4 linked regions of the Homo sapiens genome follow. The protein of the gene in region 2 interacts with the protein of the main gene of each other region in a pairwise test. Each region holds a gene or a part of one and is shown on either strand. Other genes may lie near its edges. The genes, in order: KIZ, CEP72, PIN4 and CDK5RAP2.

Region 1 (7,777 bases), on a different chromosome or scaffold from region 2:
AATTTGGCTGGGCCCAGTGGCTCACACCTGTAATCCCAGGACTTTGGGAGGCTGAGGAGGGTGGATCACCTAAGGTCAGGAGTTCGAGACCAGCCTGGTCAACATGGCAAAACCCTGTCTCTACTAAAAATACAAAAATTAGCCAGGTGTGGTAGTGTGTGCCTGTAATCCCAGTTGTTAGAGGGTGCTGAGGCAGGAGAATTGCTTGAACCCAGGAGGCAGAGGTTGCAGTGAGCTGAGATTGCACAACTGCACTCCAGCCTTGGCAACAGAGTGAGACTCCATCTCAAAATAAATAAATAAATAAAAATTAAATTAAAAATTCAATTTCTCAGTTGCACTAGCCATATTCAATTGCCCAATAGCCATGGCTAATGGCTACCAGATTGGATATGTCTGCATAATGACTGCAAAATGAAATCTTGTCCTACTTTCATATCTATCATGGATTGAAATGTGTCCCCTGCACAATACATATGTTGACGTTCTAACTCTCAGTACCTCAAAATGCAGTCTTCTTTGGAAACAGGGTCAATGCAGATGTAATTAGTTAAGATGAGATCATACTGGGGAAGGGTGGGCGTCTAATCCAATATGATTGGTGCCTTCATAAAAAGGCAGAATTTGGAGACACATACACAGGTAGAACACCATGTGAACATGAAAGCAGAGGTCAAGATGATGTGTCTAGAAGCCAAGGAACACCAAAGATAGCCTGCAAACCACCAGCAGCCAGGAGAGAGGCATGCGGCAGATTCTTCCCCACAGCCCTCAGAAAGAACGAGCCATGCAGATATCTTGATCTTCAATTTCTAGCCTCCAGACCTGAAACACAATAAATCATGTTGTTTAAGACACCTAGTTTGTGGAGCTTTCTTACAGCAGCCCTAGCAAATTAATATAATATCCAAGCAGTTATTGACTAAATATACATGATTTAATTAAAAGCAGCATAGTGTGTACATTTTAAAATATAAAATGCTACTGCAGGCCAGACACAGTGGCTCACGCCTGTAATTCCAGCACTTTGGGAGGCCAAGGCAGGTGGATCACCTGAGGTTGGGAGTTCGAGACCAGCCTGACCAACATGGAGAAACCCTGTCTCTACTAAAAATACAAAATTAGCCAGGCGTGGTGGCATATGCCTGTAATCCCAGCTACTCAGGAGGCTGAGGCAGTAGAATCGCTTGAACCAGGGAGGCAGTGGTTGCGGTGAGCTGAGATCATGCTATTGCACTCCAGCCTGGGCAACAAGAGTGAAATTCCGTCTCAAAAAAAAAAAAAATTTCTGCTGCATTGAGAGGCCGAGATGAATCAGAACAGGACTTGTTGGGTTTCCCACTCAATTAGTGTTAGATCATGTCCCCTTTGTCCAATCACGCTTCTACACGACTGTCGATCATGCCTATCCAATAAAGTCCCCATAAAAGACCCAAGGGGACAGGGTTCAGGAAGCTTCTGAGCTGGCTGAACATGTGGAGGAGGTTCCTGGAGGGTGGTGTGCCCGTGGAGGGCATGGAACCTCTACACCCCTTCCCCCAGACCTCACCTTATGAATCTTTTCATCTGTATCTTTTGTGATATTCTTATAATAAACTGGTAAATGTAATGTATATATACATATATATGGAAATATGTTGAAATTAGAATTTCCCAATATTAGAATATATGTACAATTCTAATTTCAATATATTTTCCAGAATCAATTTTGTTTTTGAGCTACAAAAACAACAATTTCATTTGGTTCACCCAAAGATTCATGTGACTTCTGGGCCGAGACACTGGCTTCCCTTGCTGTTTGCTTAATGGGACCACTAGGGATCCATATTTTGAACTAGACTCGTTAATATTACATAGATTTCCAGCTAGGTGACTTTGGCCAAGCCCCTTATCTGCCCTGAACCCTTTTTCCCCTGTAAAACAAGGGGGTGGGGCTAGACTCCCTCTAAGTTCTAGCTAAGACATTCTAGGACTTAGAGGAAGCCTTGATCTAGGCAGACTTGATGACCCTTGGTCCAGTGAGCTAAAAGCAGGGCTGCTTACAGAAATCAGCTCAGCTAAATAAAGAGTTTGAAGAAAAATATTAAAATAGAGGGCTCTGGCAAATTAAATATTCAAAGTGAAGAACTCAGAATTTATTGAAAGCCTGTCACCATTTAAAATGCATAATTTTAGCATAAATACTCTAGAAATATTCCTTTTGTTTGCTATGTGTTATTGTTAATAAAGGAGATCCTACATCTAGATTTGTCATACGTCATTAATGAATCAACCATAGGATGTAAATTATAATTATTTTGAATTATCTATTTACTGTTTAATTACATTTAATTTTAGATTCTCCTAAAATGGCCTAATAAAAATTTTGGGTGCTAAATGACTGCCTCATCTGCTTACTCTGTGCTACTTGCTAAAATTAGTTATATTAATTGTTTGGGGATTCTTTTTCTTAAAAAAAAAAACTAACCCTGGGGGCATGGTCCTAAATAAAATATCCTAAAAATTTAATGCTTTTCTTTTCTTTGCCAGGGTTGTAGTAAAATGTTAGTTACACTAAACTCATTAAAATAAACCTTTGCACATTACCACTGAATCAATTGGATATAATCTGAATAAAAACTAAATAAAAGTCACATCAGTGCTACCCTTGGACCAGGGCAAGAAGGCCTCTGCCCTGGCTTCTGTGTATTAGAGGTTCTGTTCTAGCCCTTCTCTGCCCATGCTGCTCCACGCAAGGCAAGGAGGTCCCAGGGCCAGATGACAGGCCCACCTGGGGTGCTCACACACATACACACACATGCTCTTCTAGAACACGTTCTAAGTACCCAACACCCTTACCTTCCCTGCTCAAAGGGGCCCAAGCTGCTTTCTAAGGCTTTAAAAGGCCTCTTGGCTGGGTCTTTCCTGCAAGGGTGACCATCACTGGCATGCTCACTGCCCGGCCAAGAGGAGGCTGAGGTGGGGATGTAGGCAGAGTTGGGACTTGCTGGCTGGAGAAGAGGAGGAGAAGAGGCAGGGCACACACATCCCTGCTAGTGTATGAGACCCCCTCACAAAGCAAGACTGAGCCTGGGGTGGGAAATGGAGTTGGGGGGAGCTGGAGAAGCAGGCAAACTAAATTCCACCCTGGTTGTCCAGGTTCTTAAGAAGGCATATTGGTCAAAGTGGAGAGGAGAACACGTATTTTACCTAAGTTTGTTATCTTGAATTATAATTCAATATTTAGGCGGATGGTATGAGGGCCTCCATTCACACTCTTGCCCTGGAACTGGCAAATGTGAATGGAAGGCTGAGTAAAATCATAGTTTTGTGTTGTTGGCCTTTGAGTGTTCCATCTCTCTTACAATTTTAGTTTGTCACACCTTGCACCTTGTATGTGTAAGTAAAATTAATGGCATAGGAAAGAAACCAAAAGAAGTGAACAATAAGAGACTAAAGAAACTCTACAGGCCGGGCATGGTGGCTCATGCAAGTAATCCTAACACTTTGGGAGGCCAAGGTGGGTGGATCACCTGAGGTTGGGAGTTCAAGACCAGCCTGGCCAACATGGTGAAACCCCGTCTCTCCTTAAAATATAAAAAATACCAAAAAAAACAAAAATTATCTGGGTGTGGTAGCGCACACCTGTAATCCCAGTTATTCAGGAGGCTGAGGCACGAGAATCTTTTGAACCCGGGAGGCAGAGCTTGCAGTGAGCCGAGATCACGCCACTGCACTCCAGCCTGGGCAACAGAGTGAGACTCTGTCTCAAAAAAAAAAAAAAAAAAAAGGAAAGGAAGGCAGAGAAGCAGGCTAAGGCTTAATTTTTCTGCCCAGTGGGTTTTGAAATATGGTTGGCTTCCTTCAGGAAGCTTTTTCCCGACGTTGGTGATGATAATAAAACCTGATGCTTTCTATGTGCTGGGCCCACTTATAAACACTAACACATATTAACAATCGAATCCTAAACTAATCCTGTGTTAACAGCCTCCCACTTTACATATGAGGAAACCTGGGGTGACTTGCACACGGCTTGGCAGCTGGGACGTGGATAGGGAATGTACACCCAGGCAGTCTGGCTCCCGGGCTCCTGCTAGAGGATCCTACAGGACATTAGGAGCATTGTCCCTTAGAGCTGTCTGCACAAACGTCTGCTTCCCAAGCAACTAGTTATCAACTTTTCCCTCTCGCCAACGATACTGGCACCTGGAACAATCCTTAGATTCAGCACGGATTTTCGAGTAAGGGGTTGGTCCACTGTCGGGGCTGAGCACGGCTGTTTAGCATTTGAGGGTTTGTCTTTTTTTACTTGGTGTTTTGTGTCGCTTTTGAGTGCTGATATAATAGAACAAGCTTAGTACAGTGCCTGGCACTCAACAAATCCTGGCAAGAAAGGAGATCGAGGAAAAGAAGCAAGCGAGAGACGAAAGAAAGGGAGGGAATGCGCCTTGTAACATTAACGTAGCTTGTGCGAATCCTGGAAGGTGAGGGGAAAGGAGACACCGCGTCAAGGGAGAGAGGAGAGGGCACCGAGCGCCCGCCCCTCCGACGTGGTCCGCCCCGGCCTCACGACGCCCCGCCTCTGCCACGCCTCTTCCCCGCCCCATGCAGGTCTTCGTCCCGCCCCCCACAAAGCCGGCTTCCGCCCCGTCCCTCAGCGGCGCCCCGCCCCCACGGCGTCTTGCCCCGCCTCCTGCAGGCGGCCCGGCGCGGTGTTTACCCGCGGTGCATGGTGGGGCGGTCTCCTTCGGCAACCCCGGCCGAACGGCCACCCAGAGGCTGTGCTGAGCTGGCGCAGCGGCAGCAGCATGAGCCGGACCCTCGCATCGGCCGTGCCCCTGTCGAGTCCCGACTACTACGAGAGGCTGGGCCAACTCCAGCACGGGCTGCGGGACAGGTAAGGGCACTGGGGCGGGGGTGGGGAGTCGGCCCGCGCCGGGGGTCTTCCGCGTGCCCTGCCCCATTTTCCTTCCCGCTCCCCCGTCCGAGGTTCCCCGGGGCCCAGGCCCGCGCGCAACGCCCCCCAGGCTCCCAGTGGGGCCTGGAGGACAGTGTTTACTAGAGCCACCCCCTGTATTGGGGGTGGGAGCGGAGAGAGGTGAGAGACCGCCCCCGCCCCGTCAATAGCAGCTAAAGCCTGGTCTACGGTTTGAGGATGCGGCCGCGTCACAGAATTTGCCCAGAAGTGAAGGTGGGAGTTCTTCTGCCTGTCACTCTCCATCAAGCCTTGTGAGTTTCTCTTGTCCCCTTTTACACGCCCCCTCCCCACTCTCTTCAAATTGCCATCCCGCCGTGACAGCTGCACTGCATCAATGATGACAAGTCCTGGAACGCAGACGGTTGTGTGTGTGTGTGTCAAACATGTGCCCCCGTTTAAACTCAGGAGACTTTTAGGGGTAGCGAGGGCTGGCTAGATTTCCAGCGAAGGGATGAAATTTCCAGCTAGAGAAGTCCAGCTTCCAGAGGGTTCATGATGCCTTTGATTAAGATATGAAAGATGGGAACCACTGAAAACAGCTAGATCTAAGAGTGCATATAGAGAGAAAATTATACCGCAATGTACTATGAATAACCACGTAAAAGATAAATTGCTGGACCTCTTATTTAGCTGCTAAGTTAATTGGAGTTGTAACTCTCATTAGTTGACAAGAAAGGAAATACATTTTTGGATCTCTTGATAAACAAAACATTTAATGAGTGTTAAAAGTTACAAAATCATTCTAGTGAACAGGAGAGCTGTGTGCGTGACAGTGCTAAAATGATAACAATAATTACATGGAAAATAAAGGCAGAAGTGAGCGATTTTGAAAAGGAATTACATTTATCTTACGCTAGATTTAATTCTTGTCAGATATTTATAGAGCATCTACAACAGGCTTCCTTAATTGTCGTTAGCATTTTTTTTACCTTGTACTCCTTTTCTACGTCCTATTTTCTTTCTGACATGTCACCGCTCACCCATATCAGTGACCTCTTAATTTCTGACTTTAAAAAGAAATCTCTTCCTGTAGAGCCTTCCCTGTTTCAACCCATTCCCTAACTTTTGTGACTCTTGGCATTCTTACAGCACTCATAAATGGCATTCTTTTTGAACTATTAATTGTAAGTTATTTTTGTTTCCTGTGCTAGGAACACCTGGCTGTTTATAGTCCTTATGGCACAATAACTGTATAATAATTATGTACTTTATGATTAACACTTATTTAATTATTAAACAAGGTGAGGCTGTTGAAAATATATAAGGAATGTGAATCAAATTTTATAGCCTGTTCACGGTTCTGCATTTCGAGATTTGTTTTATTTTTAAGTCAGTACAAATCTGTTGCTGTGTGTGTTCATTTTTCATTTTAAGAATTTATAACTAACTCAAATTAATGCACACTGGACACAGTTATAGAGGCAAATAATTCTAGATACAGAAAAGGCTGCAGTAGAAATATCAAAACCTGGATTCTAGTCCACGAACAATTGTGTGACCTTGAGCAGGTTGTTCCACCTCTCTGAACCTTGGTTCTTTACCAGGAATGAGGGGGCTTGACTAATATGCAAAGTAAGGCCACAGATTTTTTTCTTTCTCTCTTTGCTAGAATAATGGGCCTTAAAGTAAAAAAAGAAAAAAAAGCTGAAAGCTGTAGTTTTGCAAAGCAATGTGTAAAGAATATTATTGTCTGTATCCAATTTGAGTGTTTGGATGTACCTTTTTGTTTGTTTGTTTATTTGTTTGAAACATAGTCTCACTCTGTCACCCAGGCTGGAGTGCAATGGCATGATCTCAGCTCACTGCAACCCCCACCTCCCAGGTTCAAGCGATTGTCCTGCCTCAGCCTCCCTAGTAGCTGGGATTACAGGCGCCCACCACCAACCCCAGCTAATTTTTGTATTTTTAGTGGAGATGGGGTTTCACCATGTTGGCCAGGCTGATCTCGAACCCCTGACCTCAGGTGATCTGCCTGCCTCTGCCTTCCAAAGTGTTGGGATTACAGGTGTGAGCCACTGCACCCGGCCTTGGTTGTACCTTTTTAAACAAAGAAACACAAAGCATCCCACTGATCACAGATACCACTGTCTCCTAAAATTCCTGAGTCATTTCATAGGGAGCAACCCTGGGTAGTCACAGCTGCTTTATCAATCCAGAAACTTCTGGGAAGTGGGAGACAAAAAAAAACTCCCTCTTTCTCAGCCCTTTTAGAGGTGGTCATTGCAATGTTAGCTGGTCAAATAACCAGCATATTTCCAGCCCAAGTCATGTTAGCTGTAGTTACACGTAGATGTAATTTTATCGTCTGAATGTTTTCCTATGTGTGTACAGTGTTTTTTCTGCATTGTGGTGAAAGTCAATAATTGAATCTAAAAGAGTCTAATGGAGTGACTTGTTACAGTGTGTATAGCACCCACAAGCATGGTAGAAACTTATAAGTGGAATTGGCTCTTACGGTTATACAAAAACATCCTTTTAAAAGGGCCCATTAGCCAGCCGCGGTTTTTTCAGTGCCTATATTGATTCAGAGTAAGATATCATAATAGTCTAGAAACTGACACTGAGATATTAGTAGAGTAAGCTGAAGATGGTATAGAATTGTGGTATCGAGACAAAAACAGAATAACAAGTGGCTTAAAAGTAGAAAACTCAGCAAGATAAGGACCACTTAGCTGTGTAAAACTGAAAGGTCCAAGTGAGGGGTGACTGAAAACATGAACTATGGGTAAGCATCCCAGGGATGGGTATTTCAAAGATTCTGAATAGAGATTTAATATGTAAGAATTGCAAGCCATGGAAAGGCTTTTCATTGAGGCAAAT
Region 2 (3,748 bases):
GGACTGTGAGGTGTGACTGTGAGGCGTGGACTGTGAGGTGTGACTGTGAGGCGTGGACTGTGAGGTGTGACTGTGAGGTGTGACTGTGGGTGTGAGGTGTGACTGTGAGGCGTGGACTGAGGTGTGACTGTGAGGCGTGGACTGTGAGGTGTGACTGTGAGGTGTGGACTGTGAGGTGTGACTGTGAGGTGTGACTGTGAGGCGTGGACTGTGAGGTGTGACTGTGAGGCGTGGACTGTGAGGTGTGACTGTGAGGTGTGACTGTGGGTGTGAGGTGTGACTGTGAGGCGTGGACTGAGGTGTGACTGTGAGGCGTGGACTGTGAGGTGTGACTGTGAGGCGTGGACTGTGAGGTGTGACTGTGAGGTGTGACTGTGAGGCGTGGACTGTGAGGCGTGGACTGTGAGGCGTGGACTGTGAGGGGTGACTGTGAGGCGTGGACTGTGAGGTGTGACTGTGAGGTGTGACTGTGAGGCGTGGACTGTGAGGTGTGACTGTGAGGTGTGACTGTGAGGCGTGGACTGTGAGGCGTGGACTGTGAGGCGTGGACTGTGAGGCGTGGACTGTGAGGCGTGGACTGTGAGGTGTGGACTGTGAGGTGTGACTGTGAGGTGTGACTGTGAGGCGTGGACTGTGAGGCGTGGACTGTGAGGCGTGGACTGTGAGGTGTGACTGTGAGGCGTGGACTGTGAGGTGTGACTGTGAGGCGTGGACTGTGAGGTGTGACTGTGAGGTGTGGACTGTGAGGTGTGACTGTGAGGCGTGGACTGTGAGGCGTGGACTGTGAGGTGTGACTGTGAGGCGTGGACTGTGAGGTGTGACTGAGGCGTGGACTGTGAGGTGTGACTGTGAGGTGTTACTGTGAGGCGTGGACTGTGAGGTGTGACTGTGAGGCGTGGACTGTGAGGTGTGACTGAGGCGTGGACTGTGAGGTGTGACTGTGAGGCGTGGACTGTGAGGTGTGACTGTGAGGTGTGACTGTGAGGTGTGACTGTGAGGCGTGGACTGTGAGGTGTGACTGTGAGGTGTGACTGAGGCATGGACTGTGAGTTGTGAATGTGAGGTGTGGACTGAGAGTTGTGGACTGTGAGATATGACCTGTGTGCAGTGTGACCAGGGGAGAGAGGTGCATGAGAGATGGTCGGGCACGGCGGGGCAACCTGGTTCCCCTGGGCGGTAGTCCGGCAGCTGTGCTTCCCCCTTCACTGCAGTGCGTGTTCAGTTGGAAACACGGAGATTTCACCTTTACTCCCTGGCTATAGGGGGATGGTGAGAAGGGGGCTGGGTGTGAGGGGATCTTCAAGGCAGAATCTTAGTTTGTCTTTTAAGAATTGTGTGCCGGGACGTGGTTGGAGGCTGGGTGCAGAAAGGAAGAGGCGAGCTGCTGGAGGAGGCAAGGACAGGTCGCTCTGGGCAGTTTTGTGGGTGCTGCTGTGTGAACCCCTGTTGCTGTGGCCTCAGCAGGGAAGGCTGGTCTGTGGTCAGTTCCTCCCCCTCCCCTCCCCCTTTCATTCCCTCTTCCTTTCCCCCGACCTCCCATTCCCGCTCCCTCCCCCACTCCTCAGGCTGAGGCTGCCACACTTACCTGGGTTCGACCACAGTCTGGTCATAGGCGTAGCCAGGCTCTGCCCCTTACAGGATAAAGGCCACAGACCCCCATGGGGCCCATCACAGGTGTAAGTTACAGAGGGGAAGGGTCCTGAAAGATGAGACTGGGCCAAGAGGAGATGCAGCGGAGCAGAAGGAAGGGGACTGTGGCGGCCGCGGGTGCAGTGCCCAGTCGTGGGCAGGGCCATGTGACTCCCTGGAACCTGGTGGGCCTGTCTGTGGCAGGTCAAGGTACAGTTGGGGGTCATTCTCCTTGAGCACTGTGGCCTGGATGTGGACAAGGCAGGGTGCACAGCTCCCAAACATGGTGGCATTGGGCTTCTGCCCCCAGGATTCATGCTGGCTTCATCCAGTCCTGGCCTGCGGCTCCTTTGCTGTCCAAGTGAACAGGGCCTGGGCCTGCACAGTGGCCCTGTCAGTGGGGTGCCCATCTCTGTGGCTAATGTGACCGAGGTCAGTGGGCCCTGCCTTGTCTAATACTTGTAATGCCCTGAGTGTCCTCAGGTCATCGCTGACTGGGTGATTAGGGCAATTTGGAGGTGACAAAGTGGGTAAAATGTAATAGCACTTTACTTCTAAAATAAAAATGGTCAACAGCATTAAAGACTAGGACTCTTCTATTGCACTATTATGATGTCAAAATTATTATATTTGACTGGGAATTAGAACTATTTCAGTCCCCGTATATTTTCTAGAATTAGAACATTGTTTTGCTAGCCATGAAGTTTATCATCTTCTCATAAAACCATGCGTAGCTGGAATAGCCAAGGCGCCATTCAGTCACTCATTAGCCTGTTCAGCTCATTCATTCATTCCATAGGTGCTGAGCCGCACCTCCAAGGCTGCTCCCAGGGGTCAGGACAGTGGTTGGGAAGGAGGAGGCAGGTGGGCGGTAGCCAGTGGGACACAGAAGGTGATGGGGCCACAGAGATAGGTCTGTGTGCAGGGCCAGGGCACCTTCGTGCCCATGCAGGGAGGTGGGCAGGCCCAGCAGGTGAGGGCCACACCGCTGGAGAGGACGGAAGTGCCAAGCAGCCGCTTCCCTGTTGTTCTGCAGCTCCCTGGTCAGCACCAATGAACACCTGCTGCAGGAGCTGAGCCAGGTGCGGGCGCAGCACAGAGCCGAGGTGGAGCAGATGCACTGGAGCTACCAGGAGCTCAAGAAGACCATGGCCCTGTTTCCACACAGCAGCGCCAGCCATGGAGGCTGCCAGGCCTGCTGACTCCTGCCGAGAAGCTGGGCCACCCCTTAAGCTTCCTGGTAAAGTTACATTGTCTGCACCTTTGTACTTCTTTATTGAGTGTACTGGCTGGCAAGAGTTCTCTCTTCTGTTGGTAATTATTTAGGATTTTTGGAATGTATTCAGGACCTGTAGCTTGGTTTTCTAAAGCACCTCGTAAAATGATATGATTACTCCAAGCCCTCTGCATGTTTTCAGACAGAACACATTGACATATTTTGAGACAAACTGACTATTAATCTTGTATCCAGTATCCTGAGATGAAGTAAATGCAGTGTTCTACTGCCTGATGTGAAAGAGAGCTATGTATGATAATTAAAGAAAATAATTTTCTGTGTAACAAGCAATCTTTATTTAATAAACAAATACATTGTTCTGAAAAGTTAACTTTTTCAGTGGCTGTATACAAATTATAACTGAGTTTGTCATTGAGTTTTTTATAGAACAAGCTGTGCACCATGATAGGTGAGTGGGAATAATTAAGTTCAAAGACTTAACACAAGTGACACTTATAGATGTGGGGGAAAAAACCTTAAAAATATTGTCTTATGATATTAACATATCACAGCGGAAACATCTACCCAAGCCCTGGCTCGCTCTCTTGTTTGCAGTGTAGTTCTGAAAATTATGTCATAATAGGACACAAAACTAGATTTTTAGTTTGGAAACTTCATATCTTATGTCATACTTGCTGTGATTGGTAAGACAAGGTCATTTTTTAAATGACGTTCAACTGATTTGGGAAGAATGAGCAGGCCTAAGAAGAAAATGCTCTGTGCTAGCTCTGTGTGTGTGTGTGCCCTTGCTGTGTGTGTGTGTGCCCTTGCTGTGTGTGTGTGCTGTGTGTGCGCTAGTGTGCGCTTGCTGTGTGTGTGTGCTAGCTGTGTGTGTGTGCTGTG
Region 3 (7,034 bases), on a different chromosome or scaffold from region 2:
AATCAAACATTTATTAAAACACCTTTTGTGTGCCAGGCATTGTGCTAGGCTTGGAGATACTAAGACAAGCAAGATGGAGACTCTTGCTTAAAACTTTTCAATGGCGGCCAGGCGCGGTGGCTCACGCCTGTAATCCCAGCACTTTGGGAGGCCGAGGCTCGCAGATCACGAGGTCAGGAGATCGAGACCATCCTGGCTAACAGGGTGAAACCCTGTCTCTACTAAAAATACAAAAAAAATTAGCGGGGCGTGGTGGCAGGCGCCTGTAGTCCCAGCTACTCGGGAGGCTGAGGCAGGAGAATGGCATGAACCCGGGAGGCGGAGCTTGCAGTGAGCCGAAATCGCGCCACTGCACTCCAGCCTGGGCGACAGACAGAGCGAGACTCCGTCTCAAAAAAAAAAAAAAAAAAACAACTTTTCAATGGCTCCCTATTACGTCTAGGATAAGTCCCAAGCTCCTTAATGGGGCCAAAAGGCCTCAATGCCCTGACCCTCAGCTACCTCCCTCAGGCAGGCTCATCTGAGTGCACTCCCACCTCAGATTTGGCTTCATCCATACAATTTCTTACACATACCATGTCGTTTCCCCCATTCTGGAGTGTCTCCTCATCCTTTCTTTGGCTAACCAGCTCCTACTCATCCAGGAAACCTTCCCTGGCTGGCTCCAGTGTCCCTCTGTGCTTCCACAGCCCCCTGTCCATAACCATCTCTGCATCTCCTGCATTCTCCTGAAATGATCCGTCTTCCTCACTAGAATATGAGTTTTCTGAAGGAAGGTACATGGCTTGTTCATCTTTGTACTCCCAGTGCCTGGAACTCAGTAGTTGTATAGGAAATGTTTATTGAACTGAGCCCTTAATTCAACTGTAATTCTTAGGAACATCAGCCTCTAGCAGTATGTAGGCTGCCATTGACACAGAAGTTACCATAGTAGTAAAATGACATACTAGTAAAATGTAAGATGCTGCTAATGGTTCTAGGAAGACATCAATAGGCAATGTAGTAGACTCTAGAAATTTGGACATGAATGTATTCTTTAGCCAAAAATGGGTAGTGGGAAATTTGATCTTTTTAAAAAATGTATTCTTAGAGATTTTACTTACTGGAATTGTGATGCTTGAACACATAGTTGTGGTACATGATAGAACTCTTACAAGAACTTAGGAGTCTGCCCTCAGAAGGCAGGGTGTTAAATTGGATGCAAAGAATCTGGGCCAGGCTTCCGGAGCTTTCATTCACCTATTAGCACACTCATTTGTGTATCCATTTTCTGTGAAGGGTTTATATAGGGCACAGATTTCCTGTTTGAAGAAAGATGGGTCAGATTAATTTAGCTTGATGTTGTAAAGCAAGCTTGTCCAACCCACGGCCCACGGGCTGCATACGGCCCAGGATGGCTTTGAATGCAGCCCAACACAAATTTGCAAACTTTCTTAAAACATTATGAGATTTTTATTTGTGATTTTTTTTTTTTTTAGCTTGTCAACTATCATTAGTGTTAGCGTATTTTGTGTGGCCCAAGATAATTCTTCCATTGTGGCCCAGGGAAGCTGAAAGGTTGGATACCCTTGTTGTAAAGTGTCTGGCCGAGTTCCCTTTTGAAGTGTGGCGTTATGATGGAAATATCCACTCCGGTTGTGTGTTGGACCTTTCTGTAAACATGGAGGTGCAGTTTAAATGAGTACCTGTCATCTCTTCTCTAAAGGGGGAGCAGCCTCTGGGAGTGACAGTGCTGACAAGAAGGCTCAAGGTCCCAAAGGTGGTGGCAATGCAGTAAAGGTGAGTTACTGGTTCCTTTTTTTCCATGTTAAATATAAATTCTGTTTATGTGTTAGTACACATAAAAGACAGAATGCTTAACTCATTCTAACAGGCTAGCCTAACACTGGTATAAAATCAAAATAACACAAAATTGTAGCTGGGCGCACCTGTAATCCCAGCACTTTGGGAGGCCAAGGCAGGCAGATCAGCCTGGCCAAAATGGTGAAACCCTGTCTCTACTAAAAATACAAAAATTTGCCTGGTGTGGTGGTGTACACTTGTAATCCTAGCTACTTGGGAGGCTGAGGCACGAGAATCAAGAATCGCTTGAACCAGGAGGCTGAGGTTGCAATGAGCTGAGATTGCACCACTGCACTCCAGCCTGGGCAACAGAGTAAGATTCCATCTCAAAAAAATAAATAAATAAAAATAAATTTTAAAAAAATGGAAAATATAGACCAGTCTTGCTTATGAAAAGTAATTCCCTTTAAATATTTTGTCATGTACTTTCTCAGATACCCAGAATTTCTTTATAGTTTTTTAGTATTGTTCCTTAAAATGCATTAAGTTAGATCTTCCCAGTAATTGAGTTATTTCTTAGGACAAAATAATATTTTATAAAACCAAGAGATTAGATAAGTGTTAAAAGTCCTCTGCTGAATAAACAGGCAAGGGTGCAGGTCTCTTTAGAAAGCTTCCCCACTGGTGAGCCACAAACCAGGGTCTTGACCATGAAAATGGGGGCAGGAGAAAATCAGCAAATAATTACTTGAAATACTTAACCTAGCCCCAGAGGAGTATCTGCTGGGAGAAAATTTAATCTGCAAACTAGTAAGTGCTATGTAACAAGGCAATTTCCATGTTTTAGTCAGGATATGGGAGGCTGTACTTTGATTCATTCATTCAGTAAGGACTTAGTGACATCTGCCCTGTGCCAAGCAATGTATTAGGCTCTGGGGATTTTTTATCATGTATTTATTTAATAAAAAAGTAAGAGATGGGCCAGGCACAATGGTTCATTCCTGTAATCCCAGCACTTTGGGAGGCCAAGGCACGAGGATCACTTGAGCCCAGGAGTTTGAGACCAGCCTGGGCAATATAGCAAGACCCTGTCACTAAAAAAGTAAAAATAAAAAATCAGCCAGACGTGGTGGTGCACAACTGTGGCCCTAGCTACTCAGGAGGCTGAGGTGGGAGGATCGCTTGAGCCCGAGAATTTGAGGCTACAGTGAGCCATGATTGTGCCACTACACTCATCCTATGCAACAGAGCGAGACCCTGTCTCAAAAAAATAAATAAAAAGTAAGAGATGGTCCTTGTTATCACAGGCTACTTGGGAGCAGTTAGGTAAAGATATGTATTTCATTGCTGTATGATAAGCATAGCAGTGGAACTGCATCATATAAATTCAGCCATACATGTGTAGCCTAAAAAAGAGAGATCATGTAAATGGTGTGGACTGTTCTGCCCACTCTTCTATTCAATGAACCTATGCCCCACAGAGAGAGAGAGAGATGAGAGACATGCACCTGCTTTTCTATAGTTGCCCTGAATTCTTGTGTGAGCATCCAATCATGTGAAGTGGGGTTCTGGTATCCAAAGATAAGTTTTCATAAAACATAGCCCCTAAATACAACCCAGTTACTTCATGTTACAAACGGAGTACAGCGTTCCTGGCTATGTCTGGGCTTAAATGAGAGCTGACATGCTGGTCTCCCATATGACATCTTCATAAAGGGATATTCTAGGGTAATTTTGGCTATATGCAGTTTTCACCTAATATGTTTTCACAAGCATCTAACCTAAGAGACTGTTGCACTGCATATGGCTTTAGCTACTTTTTTTTATTTTTTTTTTTGAGACGGAGTTTCACTCTTGTTGTCCAGGCTGGAGTGCAATGGCACGATCTCGGCTCACTGCGACCTCCGCCTCCCAGGTTCAAGCGATTGTCCTGCCTCAGCCTCCCAAGTATCTGGGATCACAGGTGCCCGCCACCGCGCCCAGCTAGTTTTTTGTATTTTTAGTAGAGATGAGGTTTCACCATGTTGGCCAGGCTGGTCTTGAACTCCTGACCTCAGGTGATCCATCTGCCTCGGCCTCCCAAAGTGCTGGGATTACAGGCATGAGCCACCGTGCCTGGCGGCTTTAGCTAATTTTTTAAAAACTTTGTTTTGTTGTTTTTATCTTTGTAGAGATGGAGTCTCGCTATGTTGCCCAGGCTGGTCTTGAACTCCTGGCCTCAAGCGATCCTCCCGCCTCAGCCTCCAACAGTGTTAAGATTATAGGGGCATGAGCCACCACACCTGGTGCATGTGGCTTTAAAGAGGCACCTTACCCTCTCTGGAAAAAAAATAAGTTCAATGTGGCCACTCATGAGATATATGGAAAGGAGTGGCACGTTATTCACTAGGAAAGTAGATTAGGGTTAAATTTGTTTTTATAAAGCCTTTTATTTTGAGATAATTATAGATTCACATGCAGTTTTAAGAAATAATACATCTAGCTGGGCATGGTCGTGTGTGCCTGTAGTCCCAGCTACTTGGGAGGCTGAGGTAGGAGGATTGTTTGAGCCCAGGAGTTTGAGGCGGCAGTGAGTCAGGATCACGCCACTGCACTCCAACCTGGGCAACAGAATGAGACCTTGTCTCTAAAAAAGAAAAAAAGAAAAAGGAAAAGAAATAATACGTATTCCTTTGTTTCTCCCAATGGTAACACCTAACAAAACTATAGTACAATAGCACAAACAGGATATTGACATTGATGTAGTCAAGATACAGACAATCCTACCACTACAAGGATCCCTCCTCTTGGCCTTTTATAACTATACCCGCTTCCCTCCTGCCCCACCTCTGCCCTCTTAACCCATGGCAGCAACTTATCTGTTCTCCATTTGTGTAACTTTATAATGTCAAGAATGTTATATGAATGGAATAATACAGTATGTAACCTTTTGGGATTGGTTTTATTCACCCAGTATAATTCGCTGGAGATTTCATTCAGGTGGTTTTGTTTATCAATAGTTTATTCCTCTGTATTGCTAAATAGTACCAGTTGAGTATCCCTAATCCAAAAATACAAAATACAAAATGCTGTAAGATCTGAAACTTTTTGAGCGCTGACATGACACTCAAAGTAAATGCTCATTATAGCATTTCAGATTTTGAATTTTCAGATTAGGGATGCTCAACTGGTAAGTTTAATGCAAATATTCCCAAATCCGAAACACTCTGGTCCCAAGCATTTTGGATAAATGATATTCAACCTGTATCCCATGATGTGGAAGTGCTGTAGTATGTCGAACCATTCACCTGTTGAAGGACAGCTGGGTTGTTTCAAGTGTTTTTTGAAGGCACCAGTCGGTGAGGGACCCTGGGACCCTCTGGCCTTTTAGGGTTCAGCTCCTTTCACATTCTGTCATTCTGCTTCAGACCCCACCCCTGTGCCCACACCCTGCCCTTTTGTCGCTATAAGCTCTGCAGATTCTGAGACCCATCCACTGACCACAGCTTCCCTCCTTCCCCTTCCCTTCCTGCCTCCGCCAATCCTGTTCCTCTGTTCTTCTCCTCACAGACCCCCAAGCCCTCAAGCCCACCCTAATCTCCCCACTTTCTCCTAGGCTTCATGTTTGTTTTCCTATCCCCTGCACACTCAAAATTAGGCCTAAGGGCTTGATCATTGGATTGAGGAGGTCCAGTTTTTCTTTTGGCCACCTCCCTGCATCCACCTCCCTGCTACTCAGGATCAATCCAATGGTCTACTTTCTATGCACTTAAAATTAGATCTATAGTTAGAAGAGAAGAATTCGAGTGGTTCTAGTATAAAGAAAAGACAAATATTTAAGGTGATGGATATTCCAAGTATACTGATTTGATCTTTACCAATTATATGAATGTATTAGATTATTGCATTACCTTGAAACTGTACATCTACTATGCATCAATAAAAAAGAAAGGAAGGAAAAGAAAAGAAAAGAAAAGATTTCCTTGAAAACGTCTAGCTGGGGGCAACTTAAATATTAATACTTGATTTTTAATAAGTATGTAAATAAAGTATTTACTAATAATTCCAATATGAGTATTATATTTGCTTATAGATGAACTTATTTCAGTAGCTTGGCTCAAATTTGAAACAGTTACTTAAGAAAGAAAAATTCAGCCGGGCGCCGGTGGCTCATGCCTGTACTCCTGGCACTTTGGGAGGCCAAGGCTTGCGGATCACCTGAGGTCAAGAGTCCAAGATCAGCCTGGCCAACATGGTAAAACCCCGTCTCTGCTAAAAATACAAAAATTAGTCGGGTGTGGTGGCGGGTGCCTATAATCCCAGCTACTCGGGAGGCTGAGGCAGGAGAATCACTTGAACCTGGGAGACAGAGGTAGCAGTGAGCCGTGATCACACCACTGCACTCCAGCCTGGGCAACAGAGCGAGACTCCATCTCAAAAAAAAAAAAAAAAGCTCCCCAGAACTGCTGGGCCCTACTGGAAAGTCACACAGCCTTGGGGATTGGGACTACTAATACTTGGTCTCTGACTTTACCTAGGCCCTCAGTGCTGCTCAGCAATCCTTTACCGCCCACCTGTAGCCATCCACCACCCCACTCCCATCAGTCAACAGAGAACTTCATTCCATGGTTCTCAACCCTAGACGTACATCAGATTCGCCTAAAAAAATACGAGTGCCTAGGGTCTCATCCCAGACCAACTGCATCAGAATCTCTTGGAGGGGGGCCTGGACTTTGATAACTTTTTTAGAAGGGCTGGGCTCTGTGGCTCATGCTTGTAATCCTAGCACTTTGGGAGCCCGAGGTGGGTGTATCACTTGAGGTCAGGAATTCGAGACCAGCCTGGCCAACATGGTGACACCTTGTCTCTACTGAAAATACAAAAATTAGTTGGGCATGGTGGCATGCGCCTGGAATCTCAGCTACTCGGGAGGCTGAGGCAGGAGAATCACTTGGACCCGAGAGGCGGAGGTTGCAGTGAGCTGAGATTGCGCCACTGCACTCCAGCCTGGGCGACAGAGTGAGACTCCATCTCAAAAAACAAAAACGAAAAACTTTTCTAGAATTTCTGGAGGTGATTCTAATATGCTGCCAGGGTTAAGAAACACTCATCTAGTCTCACAGCGTTAGTGTGAGGATTTAATGAGATAAGTACTCATCAACTTTTAAATGTTTTTATTATTTTAACAAGAAAGTGGAAACCAGACCCATTGTCAGGAACTCATTGGCTTTCAGCCCCCTAGCAACAAAGTTACCTCCTCACCTTTTTTCCTT
Region 4 (7,034 bases), on a different chromosome or scaffold from region 2:
CTGATCCAGGAGGTCCGCTGCAGCGGCCAGGAGCTGAGCAGGTAGTGGCTGTGCTTCCCTGGTGGCCTGCTGGCCGTACCACGCATGCAGGCACTGGGCTGCAGTCGTGGAATCAGCACGCAGGCCTCTGCCTTAGTGCACAGTGGCAGGCAGTAGACACAAACACATTGTACGTCTGGTGCGCCTACAACATATGGAGAAAGATCCTGTAAGGAGGAGAGGGCTTGGCAGTGGGTTGCTGTTTTTTGTCAAGGGTGAGTCAGGGAAGGCCTTTGTGAAAAGATGCCATTTGCTCAGAGAGCTGAATGCAGTGAGGAGGTGAGTGCTGCAGCTACCTGGGAAAGATCATTTCAGGCAGAATGGGCGCAGGCCCTGAGGCAAAGTGGCTTAGGCCTGTGCCGGACAGAGCAGGGCAGTGTATCTGGAGAGGGGGCTGGCAGGATACCAAATCACATCGGGCTGCAGAGTCAGTGTGAGGACTTTGGGTTTTCCTCTGAGTGGCATGGGAAGCCACTGGGAGATTCTGAGCAGAGGAGTGGAATTAGGATTAGAGAGCACATGGAATTCTTAACCATGCTTGTCACTTCTTGGTCCACACTCTTGTGACTGAGGGTGGAATTGGCCTGCTCTGTGGGGTTTGAATAAGTTACCCTGAGGTAGAATTAACCTGTCCTTCTCATGCCTGTGGGGCCTTCTCAGGGTGCAGGAGGAGGTGAAGTTGAGGCAGCAGCTGCTCTCACAGAATGACAAGCTATTGCAGTCTCTCCGAGTGGAGCTGAAGGCGTATGAGAAGCTGGATGAAGAGCACAGGAGACTGAGAGGTACTGAGGCCCTTCTCACCTTGAGGCTACTGTGCTTTGGGCTGTAAGACCACCCGACAGCTGGCTGTAGGCACAGGAGGGCAGAGCTCAGCCCTCTCCACTCTGGCCTTGTGGGTAGAGTGGATGGGTGTTGAAGCTAGCTCTTTGACCCACTCTTCTTCTGAAGGAACAGCAGGAAACATAGAAGGACTGAGGCTCAGCACCCAGGCCAGCCGAGGTCCGGGTTCCCACTCACTTGTTCCCAGCTATGTGACCCTCAGTAGGCCACTTCACCCTTTGAGCCCATACCTATCTCTGTAAAACATGTCTCTCAGCACCTGTTGTGTGGAGAATTGTGTTGAAAATTGAATGAGACCATTTATTAAAAGCATCCTAGCAAGATACCTGACACATAGTAGGCACCCAGGAAATGACCTTTATTATAATCGTCCTGCTAGTATATGTTACTTTTTGCCCACTCATTCAGCAAACATTTATGGACACCTCTCACGTGCTGGGCATTGCTCTGGGGATGGTTGTTGGCCTCGTTGCTCTCTGTATCCCAGGAGAGATACCAGCTCAGAGTGCTTCAACTATAACGTCTAATGTTTCAGAATCAATTTTGAGGTGTGGTGAGGTGTTTTTTTTTTTTTTTTATTTTACTAATTTTCCAGATGGTTTCTCTCTATTGAAAGTTTATCTAGAAAGGGGTCATCTCACAGCTTTTATTTTCTCCTCAACTTGCTTTTTTTATTCTTGCTGTTGTGTCTTTTTAATATAGTGTGGCTCTTAAAATCATCCCCTTTCATTCTATAATTCTAGCCCAAATAGATTTTATTACTACTAGACATAATTTCGGGGTTTGGTGTGCAATTTGCTAGGCTTTTATGGCCAGAAGCGAAAATTAATTTCCAGCTCTTATTTAGCGTGTGGAATAGCAGCAATTAAGTCTGCCAATATTTTTGTTTCTAAAGTCAAGTTGTTATTTTAAACTGTACCTAGTTCTTAGGAAGGGGGAGGGCGATGGTGGTGGTGAGTGTAAAATGCGATTGAGTTCCTTCGATGGCTGACCCTTTGGTTGTGGAAGATGTCAGGGCTTCTCTTTGCACATGTCCTCAGAGGCGTCGGGAGAAGGCTGGAAGGGGCAGGATCCTTTCAGGGACCTGCACAGCCTCCTGATGGAGATCCAGGCTCTGCGCTTGCAACTAGAAAGGAGCATCGAAACCAGCAGCACTCTGCAGAGCAGGCTCAAGGAACAGCTGGCAAGGGGGGCAGAGAAGGCACAGGAAGGAGCCCTCACTCTGGCTGTCCAAGCCGTGTCCATCCCTGAGGTGCCCCTTCAGCCTGACAAACACGGTACTGCCCCTGCCTCTCCCCACTTGCTGAGAATGCAGCTCTGAGCATCTGTGTGTGACATGTGAACTTCTGAATGATGCCTTTGCCCCACAGAGGTGTCTTTCCATTGATAGCTGACATGCTGTACCCTAGGAGCCAGGGGACCTGACTGCTAATTAATTAGCGGTCACCTTGGGCAAAGTGGCGTAATCTCCATCTGAGGCATCTTGATTCTCAGGGAAGTGGAATTTGGACTTCCAGACACCCTCAGTGCCTCTGGCCTTGCTCCCTCCTATCCATTTAGTCCTGCCTGCATCACTTTGATGCTGAAATTTCTTTTAGTTTCTCTTACTGCCTTTAGAAGGGAACCTAAACATCTTAATCTGGCTTTCAGTGTCTTTCAGGATCTGAAAATCATCCTGATAGGTTTAAAAAGTGGATCTGTTTTGCATTTGTGTGCAGGTTAATTGCCTAGCCCTGGAGAGGCTGTGGGGGGTACGAGAAAGAGGACCAGACACCTCTACCACCCGCCCACCCAGGGTGTGGAGCAAACCAGTAAATGGTTAGACTCCAAGCAATCAGGCAGCCTGTCCTCTTTGCTCTAGAGATGAAAAACAAAGGCCCAGAGAGTGGATGGGGCTTGCCCAAAGTGGCACAGCAAGTAGGCAGCAGAGCTGGAGCTAGAAACCATTTCCAGCTTCGAGTCCAGGGCTGTTCCTAAACCCCACTGGACTCTCTGGAGCGTTGGGTATCCTGGGATTATCATCCTGACACCCATAGGGTAAATGTGTGTATCCAGTGGGATGAGGAATGCCAGCCTGCTTTACAAGCAAGTATTGTACTAAAGTTTGGACTGACTTTTACTTGGATACCTCTAGTTAAAAAAATAAAAATAAATCTCTTAAGGAGCACCTGGTCAGTCCGCTCGTAGTGATTAGTTCATTGATTTCTCATTGACAAGGATCTTAAAATTTAATCAAAAAGATGATGTAATAATATGAAAAAAGTGAACAGAGAAAAAAAGTTCATGATTCTACACATTGATCATTTTTTAAAATTTGCATATTTTTTCATTTATTAAATATGAGCATGAATTTATATTTTTCAAATTGGATTTTGTGTCATTGTGTGTCCTTTCTTTGTTTTTGCCCAATATTACATCATACATGTTCCCTGTGCTTTCACATGGGCTTCCTAATGATTGTTTGCAGGCTATTCTCAGTCACCAATCCATGACCCCGTTGATTTATTAAAGTGGTCTCTGATTTGGAGCCATAATAGACATCAATGTTAATATGCTTTTTGCTGTTAAATAATATTCTTAGGAGAAAACCCTACAAGGGGAACCTCATAAGTTTGGAAAGGTGCCATATTGCCACCTTCTAAATAGTCTGTACATCAGCAGTGTACAAAGGTAGTGGTTTTTGTGTGACCTCAGCATTGGGCATTACTATTTTCAACACGGGTCTGCACCTGGCCCTTTTTAAGGCTTTGAGGAGATGGGATTCAGGAACTTGTGGGGTAGGCTAGGGGAGTTTGAAGCAGGGAGAACAGTTCTGTGCTTGGGGTACCCAGGAAGGAGAGTTGGGTAGCTGAAGTGAGGAGGCCATCAAACAGCCTTTACCTGCTTTTGAAATTTGCCGAAAGCAGCCCTCATCATGCCTGGCAAGAGGCATCCAGGAGAGCATTCAGAATTCACAGTGCTGCCTCAGCAGAAAAGTTTTATAATTTCCTTGAGTCAAGATCAGAATTATAGGCAGCAGCATTTCTTCCTTTGCAAAAGACTTCTCAGGTCTGTATTTAAGTGCATCTGTTTTAAAAATTCTGTTCTAAAGGCTGATGTCTTTCACTGAGAGTGATTCCTCTTGGGGCCAGCTCTATGGAGCTGACCTCCTGGCTCCTTGGCCTTAGGAACTGTAGCACACCCCTGGGAAATGCTGGAGTGCAGTCAGCCCACCGCCCAGTGGTGCAGGAGCTCGGAAGGGGGATCCTAAGCCCTAGGCTTCCTTGCTCTGTGCCACTGACATGCTGGGTTATGCTGGACAGATCACTTTCTATCTCTGCCCCTTGGTCTCCCCTTCCATGAAATCTGAATTACAGTGTGTTTTGCCCACTGAGCTATTGAGTCCAATAGCTTTTCATATGTGAAAGTGCTTTCCAAATTATAACGTGTTGCACAGGTCATCTGTACAGCATCTATTGGTTTTGCCTCCTTACAGTGTTGCAAATACATCACCCCCCAGATCCTATTGTGGGTTACTCTCATCTCTAGCTTAGGTTAGTGTGGCAGCCTCCAGACTTACTCTTTCAGTACAAAATACAGACCTCAGCTTGACATTGCCTTGCCCAAAGCCCTTGAGTGGGCCCCTCAGTCCTCTTGGTTCTGGCCTTGCATTCTACTTTGTCCTTCCCTGCACCCGGGCCTTGGGTCTATGAACTGCTTATTTCTCCCTGAGCGATGATTCCACTCTTTGTCCCACTGTCTGCCTCTCACCTGCCCATTGTGCTGCCTGGCATTTCTTTCCCTCCTTCTTACCATAGGTCAGTCACAATCAGTCTTAAAACATAAGGTTTTAAAACGGGTATTAGCCTTTGGGAAGCCAAGTTGGGGGTAGTGCCCCTCACCTGAGCCCCAACAGCCTGTGTTTCCCTCCCTTGTCCTTGATCACACTAAAATAAAATTGCTTATTTACTTTTCTGCTGAGAGTTTTTCTAGGGAATGGACTGGGCCTGGTCACTCTGTCTCCCTGGTGTCCCACAAAGGTGGGCTTGGCAGGACAGAGGCCCAGTGAAGATTTGAAGGAATGCTGTGTGTGTATGGATAAGTGAATGTGAGGGGCTTGACTGTATTCTCTTTCAGTTCTCTCTTGAATGCTGACAACAGTGAAACTAACAGTTCTCGTGTTTTGCATTTTGTAGATGGTGACAAATATCCCATGGAAAGTGATAATTCATTTGATCTGTTTGATTCCTCCCAGGCAGTGACACCAAAATCAGGTACAAAGCTGAAGTCCAGGTAACTGTGGGAGCATTGGATGTGACAGTAAGACTTTTTAACTTGCAGAAAAGGGGGGTCCCTGGTCCCAACTCAGGAGGGTATTTGGTAAGGATTTGGGATTTCAAGTTCTCAGCATCCCCAGCTGGTGATCTTCTCCTTCAAGCCAGTTAATCCACTCCTAGGTGTTACCAAGGTTAGAACATCATTGGGTCCCTCTTGCCTTAGATTAAAATTGTGACCACCTTTGTGAGGCTTTCAAGGCCCTCCAGGATCCAGCTCCAGTGGGTCCGTCCAGCCTTATCCCTTAACCTGGTGTAGCCACACAGGGGTCACCATCCTGCAGACAGGCCCACACTTTCCTCTCACTGTGACTTTTAGACCCCCTTTGTCCCACTCTTTGCCGGTAGAAGTCCCGTTTCCTCAAGACTCATCATGAATACACATTTCTCTGTGACATGCCTTTGCTGCTGTCCTTGGTCAGAATGACTCATCATTCGTGTAATTCTTGCTACTTGCTCAATCCAGTTCAAATGCTGCTCCTTCTCAGAAGCCTTCCCTGTTCTCTCCCTCCCTGCACAGATAATTGTTTTTTCTGGCTCTGGCCCTTCATCACTCTGCTGTTGCACCTTCTGCAGTGTCTGTGTTCTGATCAGACTGTGGGCTACTGGAATGCAGGCACCAGCTTGAGTCATCCTTGTGAATCTGGGGTCTTCTGCCGAGTGGGTGGTTGATAAGTGTTGGTTGAGTTGACTTGAGCCTCTCCTACAAGATGACTCATAAGCCCAGTGTGGGGTAATATACAGAGGTCCAGGAGCGTGCCTCTTTTCCCCTCTGGGCTTGTGTTGGGTGGCATTTGGGCACGAGGGCCTCTTCTAGCCCTCCTAGCTAGCTTCAACATCATAAGCGTCTTGAACGCAGAGTGTTACCTGAAACAGATTTTACATCCTACTTCTCATTTTACAGTTTCAGAGACTCCTCCACTCTCTGGGAATGACACGGACTCCCTCTCCTGCGACAGTGGCAGTTCGGCAACTAGCACTCCGTGTGTGTCCCGCCTGGTCACTGGCCACCACCTGTGGGCCAGCAAGAATGGCCGCCATGTCCTGGGCCTGATTGAGGACTATGAGGCCCTGCTCAAACAGATCAGCCAGGGACAGAGGCTCCTTGCTGAAATGGACATTCAAACCCAAGAGGCTCCCAGCTCCACAAGTCAAGAGCTGGGAACAAAGGTAACCTGACCACAGAGCTGGGGGGCACAAGCTGCTCCCTGGGAGTGTCGGTGGAAGGGGGAGGGGAGTCAAATGGCGCAGTTGTCCTCATTAGGACCCTGAGAAGAGGGACCAGGAAGTGTGGCCTCAGAGAGCTCAGAGGTCAGGTCCAGTGTGGGGAACTATTGGTGGTGGCTGTGTTTGGTGGGGTTTGTGCCTTGTGTTCCTGCAACTGCTCCATGGGCTCTGCTGTCTTGTTCCCATGACGGCCTCTGTACATCTGGTCTCTCATCCATTCTTCTCTCCATCTGCACCCTGGTGTGTCTGTCCATTCATCTGCCCATCCACCTGGCTGTCGCCCATTATGAAGTGGAATTACTAGTTCAAAGGTTGTGAACTTTTTAGGGCTCTTGATGATAACTGTTGCTCCATTACTTTGCAAAACAATTCTATCTCTGTTCATGAACGTTTGTCTCACTACATTTTTGTTTTTGTTGAGGTTTTGTTGTTGTTGTGTTTTTTTTATTTTGAGACAGGATCTAGCTCTGTCACCCAGGCTGGAGTGCAGTGGCGCGATCATGGCTCACTGTAGCTTCGACCCCACCTCCTAGGCTCAAGCAATCCTCCTGCCTCAGCCTCCCAAGTAGCTGTGACCACAGGCGTGTGCCATCACACCTGGCTTTTAAAAAAAAT

Evidence for each region.
Region 1: the proteins of CEP72 (region 2) and KIZ interact in binary tests that used the Homo sapiens proteins (3 or more experiments, as listed by UniProt).
Region 3: the proteins of CEP72 (region 2) and PIN4 interact in binary tests that used the Homo sapiens proteins (3 or more experiments, as listed by UniProt).
Region 4: the proteins of CEP72 (region 2) and CDK5RAP2 interact in binary tests that used the Homo sapiens proteins (3 or more experiments, as listed by UniProt).

What each region holds. Positions count from the first base shown.
Region 1 is NC_000020.11:21,121,329-21,129,105, forward strand, and holds the start of KIZ (centrosomal protein kizuna), read left to right. Parts: upstream 1-4,787; coding exon 4,788-4,876; intron 4,877-7,777. UniProt on the Homo sapiens protein: Centrosomal protein required for establishing a robust mitotic centrosome architecture that can endure the forces that converge on the centrosomes during spindle formation. Required for stabilizing the expanded pericentriolar material around the centriole.
Region 2 is NC_000005.10:650,323-654,070, forward strand, and holds the end of CEP72 (centrosomal protein of 72 kDa), read left to right. Parts: intron 1-2,665; coding exon 2,666-2,831; 3' UTR 2,832-3,231; downstream 3,232-3,748. UniProt on the Homo sapiens protein: Involved in the recruitment of key centrosomal proteins to the centrosome.
Region 3 is NC_000023.11:72,184,756-72,191,789, forward strand, and holds part of PIN4 (peptidyl-prolyl cis-trans isomerase NIMA-interacting 4), read left to right. Parts: intron 1-1,705; coding exon 1,706-1,779; intron 1,780-7,034.
Region 4 is NC_000009.12:120,402,134-120,409,167, reverse strand, and holds part of CDK5RAP2 (CDK5 regulatory subunit-associated protein 2), read left to right. Parts: coding exon 1-41; intron 42-699; coding exon 700-821; intron 822-1,919; coding exon 1,920-2,156; intron 2,157-5,054; coding exon 5,055-5,132; intron 5,133-6,096; coding exon 6,097-6,362; intron 6,363-7,034. UniProt on the Homo sapiens protein: Potential regulator of CDK5 activity via its interaction with CDK5R1. Negative regulator of centriole disengagement (licensing) which maintains centriole engagement and cohesion. Involved in regulation of mitotic spindle orientation.